Regions from separate parts of the Homo sapiens genome. Here all the other regions are reported to be linked to region 4. Evidence: microRNA targets listed by miRTarBase, many of them from high-throughput screens and not tested one by one. Region 4 holds a microRNA gene; each other region holds the end of a gene's coding sequence.
The links. The annotated mature microRNA hsa-miR-4511 reads GAAGAACUGUUGCAUUUGCCCU and lies in region 4 at 1,856-1,877, opposite strand. An mRNA with a match to its seed (bases 2 to 7 or 8) in the 3' UTR can be bound and repressed. Matches are read on the target gene's strand: a 7mer-m8 pairs with bases 2 to 8, a 7mer-A1 pairs with bases 2 to 7 and ends in A, and an 8mer does both.

Region 1 (4,000 bases), not on the chromosome of region 4:
TTGTGGTTTTATCTGACTTTAAAACATTTTGTAAGTAGCTAATATGTTTGTAAGAATTAGCCTGGTGTTGCTTTATCAGACTTGACCTTAAAAAGGTTTTAAGATTTATTTATTCATGTTTGCAAAAAGTTTTTCTTGCTGATAGGAAGAAAGTTTTTCAAATCAAAACTTCATGTAACTGAATTGTGACCTTTTACATTTGAGATCCATGATAGAATTAATATTTGAAGTTTTCATTTGGAGATACTGTGGTAGCTGTCTTAACTGCCTTAAAAGAATTAGTCCACAGCTGATTGGAAATGTAGAACACCTACTTGTCCTTGCAGCTGATTGGGGAAGTACCTGTTTATACTCTGAAATAATTTCAGTGCTTTTTAAAAAAAAAAGACAAATTATTAAACACTTTGACTTTGCTGACTATGATCTAGCATGGTAGAGACTTTGATATAATACTGTTTATAAATGAATTTATTGAGGGGCAAGATGAAAAAAATCTCATAGCTATATCAGTATGCTATACGGGTCAGCTATATCAGTATGCTGATCAGCTTAGGTTTTAACATTTTTACAATAAATTATTGGTTTATTCTTTAAAAGAGACTGAATGGTGAACCTCTGGATAATTTTGAATCACTGGATAATCAGGAATTTGATTCTGAAGAAGAAACTGTTGAGGATTCTCTAGTGGAAGACTCAGAAATTGGCACGTGTGCTGAAGGAACTGTATCTTCCTCTACGGATGCAAAGCCATGTATATGAAATGCATTAATATTTGACTGTTGAGAATTTTACTGCCGAAGTTTACCTCCACTAGTTCTTTGTAGCAGAGTACATAACTACATAATGCCAACTCTGGAATCAAATTTCCTTGTTTGAATCCTGGGACCCTATTGCATTAAAGTACAAATACTATGTATTTTTAATCTATGATGGTTTATGTGAATAGGATTTTCTCAGTTGTCAGCCATGACTTATGTTTATTACTAAATAAACTTCAAACTCCTGTTGAACATTGTGTATAACTTAGAATAATGAAATATAAGGAGTATGTGTAGAAAATTTGTCTGTTTCTATGCTTTTATGTTGTTCTCTTTCCATTCTTTTGCTAACTACCTTGGAGGAGACAAGGAGAAAACGAACTTAAAGTATTTAGACTGAGATAGCTGAGGTTTTTAACTCCCAAACTTTGTTGTACCTCAAGCTCATTGTAGACACTATTGATATTAACAAGTTGTTTTTGGAATGGAGCATGAGAATCTATTTTCCAAAAGCTTTTCAAGTGAATCTGATTAGACAGTGAGAGGCCCAACTGGCTAGCAGGATCAGACTCTTCTTGGAAGCTTAAAATGATGGATGATGGTGATAATCCTCAAGAAACAAAGTGAGGAGTGGGTAGAAGTTTGACGGAAAAAATCAGGAATAGCTGAAAATTATGGAGCTTTTCTATTTCACATATTGGTATAGTGCAAAGTATGTAAATATTGAAGAATAAGAGTAGGGTCAGATTCATTAGGGATTTCCCATATATACTAAGTTTTGAAGGAGGAAAAGTACAAACTAGGGGTATGTAGCATTGGAACTGAAAAAGTTCTGTGAGAGGCATACAAGTAGTTTTGTATAAATTGGCAATAAAGAGCAATGTCATGCTTTTATTTTTTTTCCTTTGAGACGGAGTCTTGCTCTTGTTGCCCAGGCTGGAGTGCAATGGCATGATCTTGGCTCACTGCAACCTCTGCCTCCCTGGTTCAAGTGATTCTGCCTCAGCCTCCTGAGTAGCTGCGATTACAGGTGCCTGCCACCACACCTGGCTAGTTTTTGTATTTTTAGTAGAGCCGGGGTTTCACCATGTTGGCCAGGCTGGTCTCGAACTCCTGACCCCAAGTGATCCGCCCACCTCAGCCTCCCAAAGTGCTGGGATGACAGGTGTGAGGCACCACGCCTGGCCTCAAGCTTTTGAAAGGATTGTTTTAGGTAAGCATCCTTATAGAACCTTAATTTTCTCTCTCTGTCACCCAGGCGGGAGTGCAGGGGTGCAATCTCAGCTCACTTCAGCCTCCACCTGATGGGCGCAAGTCATCTTCCCACTTCAGCCTCCCAAGTAGCTGAGACTACAGGTGCGTGCCACCACACCTGGCTAATTTTTTATATAGACGGGGTTTCGCCATGTTGCCCAGGCTGGTCTTGAATTCCTGGCATCAAGCGATCCGCCTGCTTCGGCCTCCAGAGTGTTGGGATTACAGGCGTGAGCCACCGTGCCTGGCCTTAATTTTCTTTAATACTGAGATAAAGCCTACCTCATAGTGTTATCGTGAAGATTAAAACCTTTAGTGTCTAGGCTAAGTGTCTTAAAAATGGAAGCTATTATTAATCTATAACAACATTGTCCAGTAGAACTTATTGGGATGATGAGAATATCTGCTGTACAGTATGGTAGCCATTTCTGTGTGGCTGTTTAGCACTTGAAGTGTGGCTAGTGTGAATGAGGTATGGACATTTTAATTTAAGTCACTACAAGAAGCTAGTGGCAATTACGTTAGTGTGGCTCTGTGTGTTTCAGGTGTGGATCACTAGCCTAAAGATAGGATTAATAGGTAAATTAATTTTAAAGGAATTGAAGAATATTCTGGATTAGAGCATGAGGAGACTCAGTTGAGAGGCCTTTAGCATGGTTAAGAAAGAAAATAGGTAAGTAGAATAGGGACTTGACAAATAGAAAGTATTTTTGTAAAATGCCAGAATTTGATGGTGGGGAGCAAAAGGAGAGGGAATTGAAGGGGATTAAAAAACTAAGGTAGTAGCTAAAACCATAAAACTTCTAGATTATATAGAAAAGTTCTTAGTGACTTTGGGTTTGGCAGAGAGTTCTCAAATAGGACACAAAAAAGCATCAACTTCAAATTAAACGTTGTAAATTTTAAAAACTTTTTGAAAGACAAGCAAATGAAAAGGCAAGAACAGACTGGGGGAACATATTTGCAGAACATAGCCAACAAAGGATTTGTATCTATAAAGAACTAGGGTATGTATGAGATGGAAACTAAGTGCATGAAAAGATGCTCAACATTAGTCATTAAGGAAGTGCAAATTAAATGACAACCAGATACTGCTACATACCTTTCAGAATTGTTTTAAGTTTGAAAAATAAAAACAACTCCATCGAGTGTTAAGGATGTGAAACATCTGAAACCCTCCTGCAGTGGTGGTGGCAGTGCTAAATGCTACAACTGCTGTGGAAAAGTTGAACAATTCCTTAAAAGTTATACATACACATTTTATATGACTCAGCCATTCCACCCCTGGGTATTTACCCAAGAGAAACGAAAGCATATGTCCACATGAAGACTAGTTCACACATTTTCATAGCTTTATTTGTAATAGCCCAAATATCCATTGGTAACTGAGTGGATAAATTATGGTATAACTATACAGTGGAATACTATTTAGCAATAAAAAGGGGACAAAAATTGGTACACGCCACATGGACGAATCTCAATGTTGTGTGAAAGAAGCCAGGTAAATACATACTGTATGCTTCTATTTATTTAAAATCACAAAACTACAAAGTATAATGAGAAAGCAGATTAGTAGTTGCCTAAGGGTCATGTAGGGGCTGTTTTGGGGGACATATTTTAAGCTTCTAGTCCCTGGGAACTGACCCTAGTGATGGAGAATTTGTAGGAATTTCCTGTGGAAGATGAGTCTGATTTTTAATTAGGTATCAAATGTTAGTATAGCATGTCAGCCGGGTGTGATGGCTACGCCTGTAATCCCTACACTTTGGGAGGCTGAGGCAGGCAGATCACTTGAGGACAGGAGTTCAACATCAGCCTGGCTAACATGGCAAAATGCTTTGTCTACTAAAAATACAAAAGATTAGTTGGGCGTGGTGGTGCACACCTGTAGTCACAGCTCTTCGGGAGGCTGAGGCACACAAGAATTGCTTGAATCTGGGAGGCAGAAGTTGCAGTGAGCATAGATTGCGCCACTGCACTCCAGCCTC
Region 2 (4,000 bases), not on the chromosome of region 4:
ACACTGGATGATAGTGAGAAATCTGTTTGCCTCACAACATAGTGAATTTTTATGAAGGATGCCACATTATATAAAGCTAATTATCATCGAATAATAATAAAAGTCATATGTATCTTTATTTTTCCTACTTGGAAACCTAGATAATTTGGGGTTTTAATACATTTTTTTTCCTTCACTATCTCTGAAAAGAGTCAGCAGACAAATCATTGTTGAGAAACCTGGTTGTGTTCATGCAAGTTACAAAGCACAGGGAACCCATGCAACAAGCAAAACCACTCACATCAAACAAGGAGAAACCCACTTCCTCATACTTCGTGAATGTTACAGGAATACACAGATGATTTTACTGTTCAGACATTTACACATAACACAACAGAAAAATCCTTCAGTTGACTAGTTTCCATAAACTTGGTAGCATTACGGCAAAACAAGAGAGTCATCTGTGAAACACACAAATGTTTTGTACTGAGGGATATTTTCACATAACTCAGGAGATAAGGAACTTAAATTTAGACCCCCTCAATCTCATCATCATACTGATTATACCGTAAGCAGTTATTAGGGTGCAGAGGTTGCGTGTTTTGAAGATATGGATGTGGCAATTCTAATGTATCTTCACATTGTTCCTGAAAAGCTAAGGTTTTGTTATTGAACTACTATTAAAAGTTGAATGTGATCCTCTTTCAATGTCTGGCATTGCCTTCCTGTGGAATTAACATTCTGTGTGATTTAGAGTACATGTCCTGACTTTCTCAGTGCTCATAAATACCTTATCTGTAGGAAACTTACTTTAAGGGAAAAGCAGCTTTAGCCCGTCTCCAGTATATGGCCATGACTTGCTTACATTGTAATCCATTATGAAGGAAAAAGAGCCATCCTCACAAATCTAGAAGATTAAAAGTTCAAGCACAAGCACAACTTGAATCAGTGCTTCTGTAGCTTGTTTCAGCAAAGGGACCATAGCCAGTACTGTGGCTGCAACATATGCCTTGCCATCAGATACAATAGTTAGGCTTCCTATCCACATCCTATGCAGTAAAAAAGCTTTAAATCTGAATGGAACATCTGCAGAATTAGCTTACAGACAACTCAGAAGCAGGAACACTTTGGTCCGTGTTCAAATAAAATGAAGGTTGAGATTCTTTATGCAGCAGCAGGAGAAGTAGGATTCTGAATCTCTCTTTGGAGTCAAGTTGGTCTTTGAAAGAAAACCAATTTGCTTTTAAGAGATTCTAGTCTAGCAGGATACCAGATGATGGCAAGTGTGCTTAAACCAAGGGTGCTGTATAGACTAAGGGACTGGTACACTGGAAAACTACCTTCTGTTCCAGCAGAGGGCAATTAGGGTGTCAGCAATGCTGTTATTACTACTAAGGTCACCAAGGACCTCGACCAAGAAGATCCAGCAACACACCTTATTACAGTGCACAGAGGTCAACAGTAAGAGATAAAAGAAAAAGATACTCTTTTATCAAACGTTTACATTACATTGCTAATTTTTATTACATAATATTTTTCATTCTTTTGATTCACTGATATTTATTCCTGATTCTGACTCTGCCTACCGTTATTCTCTCTACTTGTTAATTCTAATCTTATTCTTTTTATTTGTAAAAGCCTAACTTTTCTGAGGCATAGTTGTGTGTGTGTATGTGTATTTAACCTATTAATTCTAGAAACATTAATTTAAAGTAGAAGAGATAGAGATTACAGATAATAATGGCATGTAAAGAGTTTTTTACAGTTAATACCTGAGAGTCTGCACAGTGGGGAACTCTGAAGTAATATGCAAGATGTCAAGAACAAGCAGTTCAGGACTGTGGCACTCAAAGGGCAGGTAACCAGCTTTTCAGGATCTTGAGAAGAAAGGCTCTTTGCCACATACAGATATTACATTTATAGAAATAATATATTAGAATTATTGAAATAGAAATATAGAATTAATGGTTCGTGCATGACCAGATGCTGATATATATAAGTGGACAGTAAATACCTATTACTATGCTCTACAAATTCACTGAAATTGCTAATAAAGACTGTAAACTAAAAGGCATAAAAGAAAATCATGTACAGATTTTATTTCTGCTGAAGATCACAAAACAATTTCAACCTCTGTGGTTCAAAATAATTTAAGGATCTTGTACCTTTGTGTTTATTTTCTGTTTCAACTAAGGATAGACTTCAGAAGGCATAGCTTCCCTTGTAACGTTTTTAAACATCTTTTTCATTTGTAGAAGAACATTTCAAAAGCCCAAATTAAATTATCATTAAAATACTTTGACACTTTACAATCTTCCAAGTGGAATTTAAGTTGTATGCCTTGATACTGTAGTTTTACAGTTTCCCCATCATTGGTAAATATTCTTCTATGATGCCACTATAATGCTACTGGTAGAAAATATGTGCATATAATTTATCAGTATATTTTCATGTAAAATTTTATAAAAATCTCAAAGTTATGAAGATAGTTTTACACACCCTCTAAACTAGGTGTCAGCAAACTATAACCCATAAGCCAAATTCAACCCACCACAAAAATATTTGCTATCAGGCCTTTACAGAAAAAGTTTGCTGAAGGTGTCTGGAATTCTGGACAGATTGTTTACAGTGGAATCAGTGTATGACTTAATTTTGCTTCCTTTATAGATATCATATACATTATTGCTTTTGAATATTATCATCTACTTGGAAAACAAATAAAGTTATATTAAAACAAAGACTTACATCCTTGAAATGTTTAGGACCAGCAAAACAATCATATATAAAAGCAGTATATTTCTAAGAAAAAAAAAACAATAAATGAACAATTTAAATTACATTTTTAAGTAACAATTTCAGAGATCCTCAGAGAATGCCAGGCAGTAAAGGACAGATCTCAAAATCCATATAGCAGATTTCTGGTTTCCAAATTTCTGGGATACAGTATTTAACACAGTATTTGAAACTCTACAATTGCTACGGAAGCGACATTGTGGAGAGTTACATATTATCCAAAAACACATTTTTCACAAGTAAGATATTTTAAAATAAGAAACCAACCAAAAAAGAATGGCCAACAATTTAAATCTTTTTTTCCATTAATAAGGAGCTACATAGTCTGCTGGTGAAGAACTTGATAGAAATTGACTGTTTTCACTTAGTGGGCTGATCCCCGTGTATCTGTGTCAGATAAAATCATAGCATTTATTCGTTACCATGGATACCATGAAGATACTGCCATCCACTAAATAGTATTAGAGGAAGACAACATAATTTTCTGGAACTAGTCCTGTTTTGCCTTCATAAGTTGCCTTTAACCATCCTGGTTCCACTGATGGGTACACTGGCAAAATAAATAAATAAATAGCACTCAGTCAACATTAGTGTCAAATAATTATATAAACAGATGGGTTAAACACCCACATCGGATTGTCAGTCCTCAGTATCTGTGGGGGATTAGTTCCAGGACCCCTTGTGGATACCAGAAACTGTGCATGCTCATGTCCCTGATATAAAATGATGTAATATTTGCATATACCCTAGGGACATCCCCCTGTATGCTTTAAATCATTTCTAGATTATTTGTAATTCCTTTTACAATGTAAATACTATGTAAATAGTTGTTATACTATATATTTTTAAAATTTGTATTATTATTTATCTATTTATTTTCCAACCTTTTTGATCCATGGTTGGTTAAAGTGTGCATGCAAAAATTCTGGAATGTAGAGGGTCCAACTATACACTCAACTCAAACGTCCAAACAAAACAATGTCACAGCCCTCTAAAGTTGGAATGTCCTTTGCATTCACATAGTCAAATAAAACAATCTCTCTGTCTCACACACATGTACAAACAGGTACATACACACAAATGCCTGCAGGAGAGGAATGAATCCAGAGGGAATTTTAAAATGTTTTATTTATTTATAGACAGAGTCTTGCTGTGTTGCCAGGCTGGAGTGCAGTGGTGCCATCTCAGCTCACTGCAACCTCCGCCTCCCTGGTTCAAGCCATTCTCC
Region 3 (4,000 bases), not on the chromosome of region 4:
ATATGGTGACACCCCATCTCTACCAAAAATACAAAAATTAGCCAGGCGTGGTGGCTTGTGTCTAGTCCCAGCTACTCGGGAAGCTGAGGCAGAAGAATCACTTGAACCCAGGAGGTGGAGGTTGCAGTGAGCCAAAGTGGTGCCACTGCAGTCCAGCCTGGGTGACAGAGCGAGACTCCGTCTCAAAAAAAAAAAAAAAGAATCTTCAACGTGTATAAAACATTTTTTAACCTGGTTTATTTTCATGATACTTTTCTCTAAAAAAGAGATTTAAATAAATAAAAATTTTAAAAAAGGAGATTAAATTCATGAGCCGAAACTGTTGTCTTTTTAATGGGGTATTAACTAAATGGGCTTGAGCCAATGATAATGAACTTTACATTGAAAATTTGCCTTCTCTTACAGCCTGCTGATCTTAAGAAGAGAATAGAATCTTTAATTGACCGGGACTACATGGAAAGAGATAAAGAAAATCCAAACCAGTACAACTATATTGCATAGAATGTTGGCCTTGCAGCATTTGGTGTCATATGCAGTAGCCAGTGGATAAACTAACCTGTTGATTCAATATTATTTGACTCCTTTTTTACTACCGATGACCAAATGAAGCAGTGTAATTAATGGAAATAGTTGAGTGGACTTTTTCTCAGTGGTTAACATGCCCATTTTAAAGAGTAATACTTACCTTTAAGAAGAATGTTGTTGAACTCTTTGCATGTTATTTAGTATGATGTGCAGAAAACACTTAAGAACGTACCTGGTCTTCATGAATTCCTCTTTGGAACTGGGAAAGAGATCCCTGTGGCTATTAAAAAGGGGGGAGGGTTCTTACACACCATTAATTATGAAGCAAAAGGTTTATTTGCTTAAAATGTCATTTAAAGATACTTAAACTGCATGCAAACTTTATTTACTGTACAGAGTTCTGGATGTATTTATCAAATAGAAAAACCACCCTTGACTTGGTTGTTCACCCGTTTTGTGATTTCCCTTGAAAAGAGAAATGAATTGTCATAGCTATTGATATTTTACTAGGTGATGTTCTGTTACACTGAAAGGGATGTTTTTTAAAAAAAATTATTTGGAAACAAGTTTTCAAGTAGGGGGACAGTTGCTTACATAATATCTTGTATATTCACATCCTAAAAATTTTCATTTATGAGTATGGGATGTGTGTATATGGCTTAGCCCCAAGTTAACTGTGCTGATTAACAAGTACTTATAAAAATAGCTAAAGTAGAAAATTAATGATCAGTTGTACTAGAGGAACATCATAGAAGAGAAAAATCCAACTCTTTATATTAAAAATGAATACAATAAGAAAATTGCAAAAGAGACCAAAATGAACGTGTTTTGTAAATTGTTACAGGAGCAAAAACTTTGCAACTAGTTTTCAACATACTTTAGACTTTAAATGTTGTTTGGACAGTTTTGTCTTCAACTTGGACCAATTGTAGATTGTTACAGGCTTCCTAGGATTTAGCATTCCTATTTTCTCTACCAAAGTTTTTTTTAGAAGCATCCCAACTCTTCTCTTTGTTGATAAATAAGCCTTTCCTGTCATCTTCATTTTAACTTGCTAAAACCCTAGATACAAAGGTCCTCCCTCATTTTTCCCACAGAGCCCCTGTTTGGGAATTTGAGATTCTGTGTCATGCTGGTTTTCCTTTCAGAATTGCTTGAAATCGAGTTCTCTTAGCCACTGGACACCTAGTTTTCAGGAGAATGTCCCAAGATTGTTTATATATACAAAATGGCAAAAGTACTGTTTTTCGAATTGATAATTCAAGCAAAGGCTTCTCTTTACTGTCACTGATTTTTTTTTGTTTTTATTTTGTTTCCTTGTTTCTATTTCCTTGAAGCTTTGAAGGGAGGAGAAGCAGAAAATTTTGTTTATGTTTGTTAAAAATCAGAACTACTTAATGCTTTTTGCCACAGCATATTTCCTTGCCTGTTGGAGCCGTTAGGAAGATTACCTATGTCCTAATCTTCAACCTGAGAAGATTTTTGACTCTTGTGTCTACTGTTGATTGTTTGCTTGAGTTCTCAAAGACCTGTGGCCAGGTATTTTAAAAAGTCGTCTATTTCTTTCTAGTTGCATCAACTTGCACACTGGTGTCTAACTATATGTGGTATTCGGAACTTGTAATTCTTATTGAGCAGCCATTGCCTATATTTTCTCAGCTCCTCACTGATTTCTTTATATGAGCTCAGCTGACAAGCAAATGCAGCTATTTTGTTTACCCTCTCTTCATACCGGACCATCAACAACAGTGTTCTAACTCATCCCTGATGGTCTGTGAGATGTAGACTATTACACAAGATTCAAGTTACTCGTAAGCAACTTTTAGATAGAGTTGGTCCTGTTAGGAGGAGACTCTTGATGTCACCTTCAGTATCTTGAAAGCGGGTCCCCTCCCCGAGGCTCTTAATTCTTTGAAAACTTGATGCTGTTTCAGCTGAAAAATTAGCAAGACTGTTAAAAAAAAAAAGTTGAGGGGAGCTGTTTAAGAAACTGAAAAGTAATTGCAAACTACATTGGATAATTGTGACTTTCAGTTGTTGTTCTGTATCAGTTGAATTTTTGTGCTCTTTTCCCTGTGTACGTGGTGGTTCTATTTTTCTCCAATAAAACTTTTATTTAAAAAAAGTTTCTAGAGAAGATCTTTAAAATTCAAGTATTGTAAGAAAGTTATAAAATCACAGGACTTAAAATCTTCCTAACAACTTCTAATGAACTCACATTTGTTGATTTTGTTATTTTTAAACTTTTTAAAAATTTTGTAATGGTTTTGTGGTAATGCTATAAGAGTATGGGGGAGGGCATGGTTAACAGGGTGAGGAAAATTCCCAGGAATCCTCAAGGTGGATAATTATTCTTAAACATGCGGATACAAGTATAAACATTGCTTCATTCAAATCCTCAGTGTCAAATTGTTTCATAAAGTCAATATGAAATGAGTCTAGATTTGAGTTCAGGGGAGAAGAAAAGATTACTCTTAGTTATGGCATTTGCTCTGCCTTTTCTGTTAATAGTTTTTTGAGTTCTGGGCCAGATACTCTCAGAGTAAGATGTTCCTCAAAGTTTTTGAACCCAGTTCCTGAGTCTGCTTGAATGGTCTTAATATGATGTCTAGCCATACTCTTGAAATTTTTGCTGTGTATGTGAGTGTACAGTTCAGAAAACCAGTTTATCTGGGCATCTGGATCTAAAGATTTGAGAAGTTTGTTTTTTAATCTGGATATTCATAAATCTTTTAAAATGAGCTGGTCTTTGTTTTCATGACCACTCTGTTTAATGCTGTGAATGGCAGGAGTGTTGTGAGCGTGTTCTATTCTCTTATTTACATAAAATTGCCAAAACAAATTGTTCATTAAAAAGAAAAGAGCAGTACTGATGAAAATTTGCATAATTATGCTTTGTAAAATGATATCTTGCTAATGCTTCATTAATGAATATTTTTCAGTGTCCTACAAAAAAACACCTGCTTTACATTTGAATACTGAAGTTTGTTCACCTGCAAACACTTGGTTGAAATCAAACACTTTGCTCAATTATTTTCCTTTTTCCCCTTGCTATTATAAAAAAGGGTATTTCTTCTTTTGAATGGACACATAATGTACCTTTATGTTTAACAATCCTTAGAAGTCATCTCTAGCATAGTGAAAAAGACTCTGACCTTTCTTTTGTAAAACCGTTTCTATTGGATGTAAAATATAAGAATGTGCTGCACTGGCATGTTAGAACTTAATAGTTTTGCCAGCTATAACAACAACAGATCCTCTTCATTTGTTCTCTAATTTCAAAACTTTTCTTTAATTTTTAAATTTTTTATTGTGGTAAAGTACACACAAAATTTACCATTCTAACCATGATAAAGTATACAATTCTGACATTTAGTACATTCACAATATTGTGCAGTCACCATTATGTAGTTCCAGAACATTTTCATCAACTCTAAAGGAAACTTGGCACCAATAAGCAGTCATTTCCCATTCC
Region 4 (4,154 bases):
ACCATCTCAGGGGTTCCTCTTATCCCCAACACTGCCTGCTGCTCTGAAAGCTGAAAGTATCAGTATCTCAACACACATGTGACACAAAAGTGTAGTCGGTATATGGTTGGGAGGCTCTATACTTTTCTTCTGCATATCTGCTAATGGGATTATATCTAATATGCCTGAAAAATAACTAGTCCTATGGAAATGGGTAACCAACAAAGCTAGTATTCAGATTCTCCTCAAAATAGGTATGTATTCTCATAAATATGAGCTATTAATACAGACAGCAAATGAATCATCACAAAGTTAAGCTCAATAACCTGAAAGCTTTAAAACTATGCAGTCACTCACCTTGTAGGGCAAAGAGAGAGGCTGCATCTGTGGCTGTCTCAGATGGGGCTTGTGTTATTGGCCTTAAGTATGATCTGTAACCTTTTAAAATAGAGGCCATGAAAAACAAAAATGCCTCTTGGATTTCCAAATCTATCATGTGCAACCTCTTTCCAGAATTAAAATCATAGTCATTTATTGCTAAATCCATGAGTCCATCATCTCTCGGTCTCTGCTGCACTGTGAAGACATACAGTGTTAGTGTTTTCTCCAAACTCACAAAACACTCATGATGGTACCAATATAATTTTGTTGTATTTTCAAAAGGACCCAAGCTACCTCAACTCTTTGTTTACATAACTTAATCATACGTAAACCTTAGCAAAGCTTGCCATAGCATTTTGTAGTCTCCGTTGAGTAAATTTTATCCAAATTAAACACAAAGCTACCCGTTTATCTCACTACCACCAGGAAAAAAAAAGCTCAGGTCGGTCATGGTAGCTCATGCGTGCAATCCTAGACCAAGGCAGGAGGATCACTTGAGGCTAGGAGTTCAAGACTAGCCTGGGCAACATAAGAGAGATTCTGTCTTTACAAAATTTTTTTTAAGTTCATGTTCTAAAATAACTATATATAAGTTAATAATGATTGTAACCGAGAAGGCAATAGAATATAAGAAAGCTGTTCAACATAAATATATATCACTCATAGGCTCACCAAGTATTGGCATTGTTCAGAAAGAATCTGAACAACCATGTCATCTATACCTCCCACACCACTACTATTTTGCACATGCCCTGAGAGGGGAAATGACCTGACATACGAATAAGGAGAATAATAAAAAAGGAACATAAACCCAGATCTCTCAAATCTTCATACAGAATTGTCTCCATTGTTCTCTCACCATCAAGTGATTATGGTGAGATTATACATAAACTAGTACATTTGAAAATATTTCAAAAACTGCCCCCCTTTCCCTCAAAAGTTTTGCATGTTTTTTTTCCTTTTTTTTTTTTTTTTTTTTTTTTTTTTTGGTTTTTTGAGACAGAGTCTTGGTCTGTCACCCAGGCTGGAGTACAGTGGCACGATCTCAGCTTACTGCAGCCCCTACCTCCCGGGCTCCAGAGATTCTCCTGCCTCAGCCTCCTTGGTAGCTGGGATTACAGGTGCCCATCACCACGCCCAGCTAATTTTTGTATTTTTAGTAGAGACGGGGTTTCACCGTGTTGGCGAGGCTAGTCTCGAACTCCTGACCTCAGGTGATCCGCCTACCTTGGCCTCCCAAAGTGCTGGGATTATAGGCATGAGGCACCATGCCCAGCCACTTTGCATGTTATGTGCACATACTTGCTCTCACACTCTTTCCATATGAATATATATAAAACATACATATTTTATATAATACATATATATGTCTTTTTCAAAGTGGCAGTGACATTCCCTCTTGTATTCATTCATGTTTTTGTCTTACATATTGAAAACAGACTTTTAAAAAAAGGGAAAGAAGAACTATTGCATTTACCCTGTGCAAACTGAGTGCAGGGCAAATGCAACAGTTCTTCTTTCCCTTTTTTTTTTTTTTAATATAAGTACCTGCAGGAAGAACACACAAGGATTAAAATATAAAAAACAATTCTTCTTCCTGGACAATTCAATGCTAAAGCCATTAGATAGTAAACATGTAATTTTATAGTAGAGAAGTCTAGTAGACACCACCTTAATCAAGTGATCGAAGTGAATATCTTCATCAATAATGGGACAAAGCAAAATAGTGTGCGATCTGATATAAGGACGCAATGAGAGAGACACAGCATCACTTCTGTGATATTCCTGTCAAAGATGTGTGACCTGGGCCGGGTGCAGTGGCTCACATCTGTAATCCTAGCACTTTAGGAGGCTGCAGTGGGAGGATCACTTGAGCCCAGAAGTTCAAGACCAGCATGGCAATATAGTGAGATCCCATCTCTACAGAATTTTTTTTTTTTTTAATTAGCTGGGTGTGATAGCTTGTGTCTGTAGTCCCAGCTTCTCAGGAGGCTGAGATGGGAGGATCACTTGAGCCTGGGAGCTTGTGGCTGCCATAAACCGTGATCGCGCCACTGCACTCCAGCCTGGGTGACACAGTGAGACACCCTGTCTCAAAAAAAAGAAAATAGATGGGTGGCCTGTATTTATTATGAGAATGCTCAGACAAACCCACACCATGGACAATTCTACAATGGTAAGTATAATCTTCAAAGATGGCAGAGAATCTGAGGAACTGTTCAGAAGGAAAGGCAAATAAAGAGACTTGAAACTACATACAACACCTGATTTGGAACTGGATCCTTTTGTTATAAAGAACATTAAGATGATAACTGGCAAAACCTGAATGTGGTCTGAGGATTAGGACAGCAGTAATTCTCAATGTTAATTTTCTGATTTTTATGGTTACATTGTAGTGATGTCAAAGAATGTACTGGGTAGGAAATACATTCTATTCAAATGTCATGAAGCATCTAATGTCAAAGGGTCAGGAAAAAAGTTTGTTATTACTTCAAAATTTTAAAATATAAGGAACAATTAATCGTCTTCGAGAGTTTTTGGAGGAGTTCTTATTGTCTAAAAAAGTGAAAATACTGGAAGAACGTAAGGCATTGGAACCAGAAAGCCTAGGATTTTTTTTTTTTTTTTGAGATGGAGTCTCACTCTGTCTCCCAGGCTGGAGTGCAGTGGCACAATCTTGGTTCACTGCAACCTTTGCCTCCCAGGTTCAAGCTATTCTCCAGCCTCAGCCTCCCAAGTAGCTGGGACAACAAGCGTGCACCACCACATCCGGGTAATTTTTGTATTTTTAGTAGAGACGGGGTTTTACTATGTCGGCCAGGCTGGTCTCGAACTCCTGACCTCAGGTGATCCACCTGCCTCGGCCTCCCAAAGTGCTGGGATTACAGGTATGAGCCACTACGCCCAGTCAAGAAAGCCTAGGTTTTAATCCCAGCTTCATCCTTGTTAACTGTATGATCTGTGAGAAGCTACTATACGCCTCCTTCAATCTCATTCTCATAGCTGTAACGTAAAAGAATGTATGTGAATGTGCTCTGAAGCTATAAAGCGTTAGAGTCCTTAATTATCAGTATTATTTAAATGTTTGTAGTTTTAACCTTTGAGATTCTGCCTTTCACAAAAGTTGAATGGGCTGTTTCATTGATTATATATATATATATATATATATATATATATATATTTGTACTTTTTGCAGAGACAAGGTTTCAGCATGTTGCCCAGGATGGTCTCAAACTGCTGGACTCAAGCGATCTCCCTGCCTCAGCCTCCCAAAGTGCTGGGATTACAGGCCTGAGCCACCCTGCCCAGCCAATGTTAATAATATTTGAATATTGCTACAATAGCTGTTGGGCTTCTTAGCTATTCAAAAGAAGTGCAAACACTTTTAGAAAGCAATTAACTAGGTAACAAATGATATTACATGCATGATTTATTTGTTCCATAAGGCAAAATTTTGTTACGTTTTATGTAATTTGTTTAATATCCCAATACTTATGAGCTACTTTGGAATCATCTACTTGTTATGAAGTGTACTTTGTAAATACTGTTTTTATCCATGTCTATTTCCAACTACACTATACACTATGATGAATCCTCAAGGGTGTAGGCTACCTCCTATGCTTATGTTGTACCTAAACATAAATGTGTATTACATAAATGGGTCATCTGCTATAATACCAAGAAGATCAGATAAAGAAATGAAGGTTTAATTTTCCTTAACAGTAGAAAAGAGCATGGTGATAAAGCATTGCGAGGCATTTGGACTTAAAGATAGCTTTAATGACTCCACTTAA

Region 1: miRTarBase lists GMNN as a target of hsa-miR-4511. Seed matches in the 3' UTR shown: 7mer-m8 at 813-819.
Region 2: the mRNA of ARHGAP42 is a reported target of hsa-miR-4511. Seed matches in the 3' UTR shown: 7mer-m8 at 3,107-3,113.
Region 3: the mRNA of CUL4B is a reported target of hsa-miR-4511. Seed matches in the 3' UTR shown: 7mer-A1 at 825-831.

What each region holds. Positions count from the first base shown.
Region 1 is chr6:24,785,041-24,789,040 of GRCh38, forward strand. It overlaps GMNN (geminin DNA replication inhibitor), which reads left to right. Exons shown (of 7, transcript NM_015895.5): 7 at 598-1,059. The coding sequence ends at 759. Among named protein-coding and RNA genes, the nearest start is that of ARMH2, 12 kb to the right of the region's middle.
Region 2 is chr11:100,988,035-100,992,034 of GRCh38, reverse strand. It overlaps ARHGAP42 (Rho GTPase activating protein 42), which reads right to left. Exons shown (of 24, transcript NM_152432.4): 24 at 1-3,322. The coding sequence ends at 3,234. Among named protein-coding and RNA genes, the nearest start is that of SNORD13I, 56 kb to the right of the region's middle.
Region 3 is chrX:120,523,262-120,527,261 of GRCh38, reverse strand. It overlaps CUL4B (cullin 4B), which reads left to right. Exons shown (of 20, transcript NM_001079872.2): 20 at 406-3,404. The coding sequence ends at 501. Among named protein-coding and RNA genes, the nearest start is that of CUL4B, 36 kb to the left of the region's middle.
Region 4 is chr15:65,717,442-65,721,595 of GRCh38, forward strand. MIR4511 (microRNA 4511) reads right to left here and starts at 1,891; the gene lies at 1,805-1,891. DENND4A (DENN domain containing 4A) reads right to left here. Exons shown (of 33, transcript NM_001320835.1): 13 at 337-555.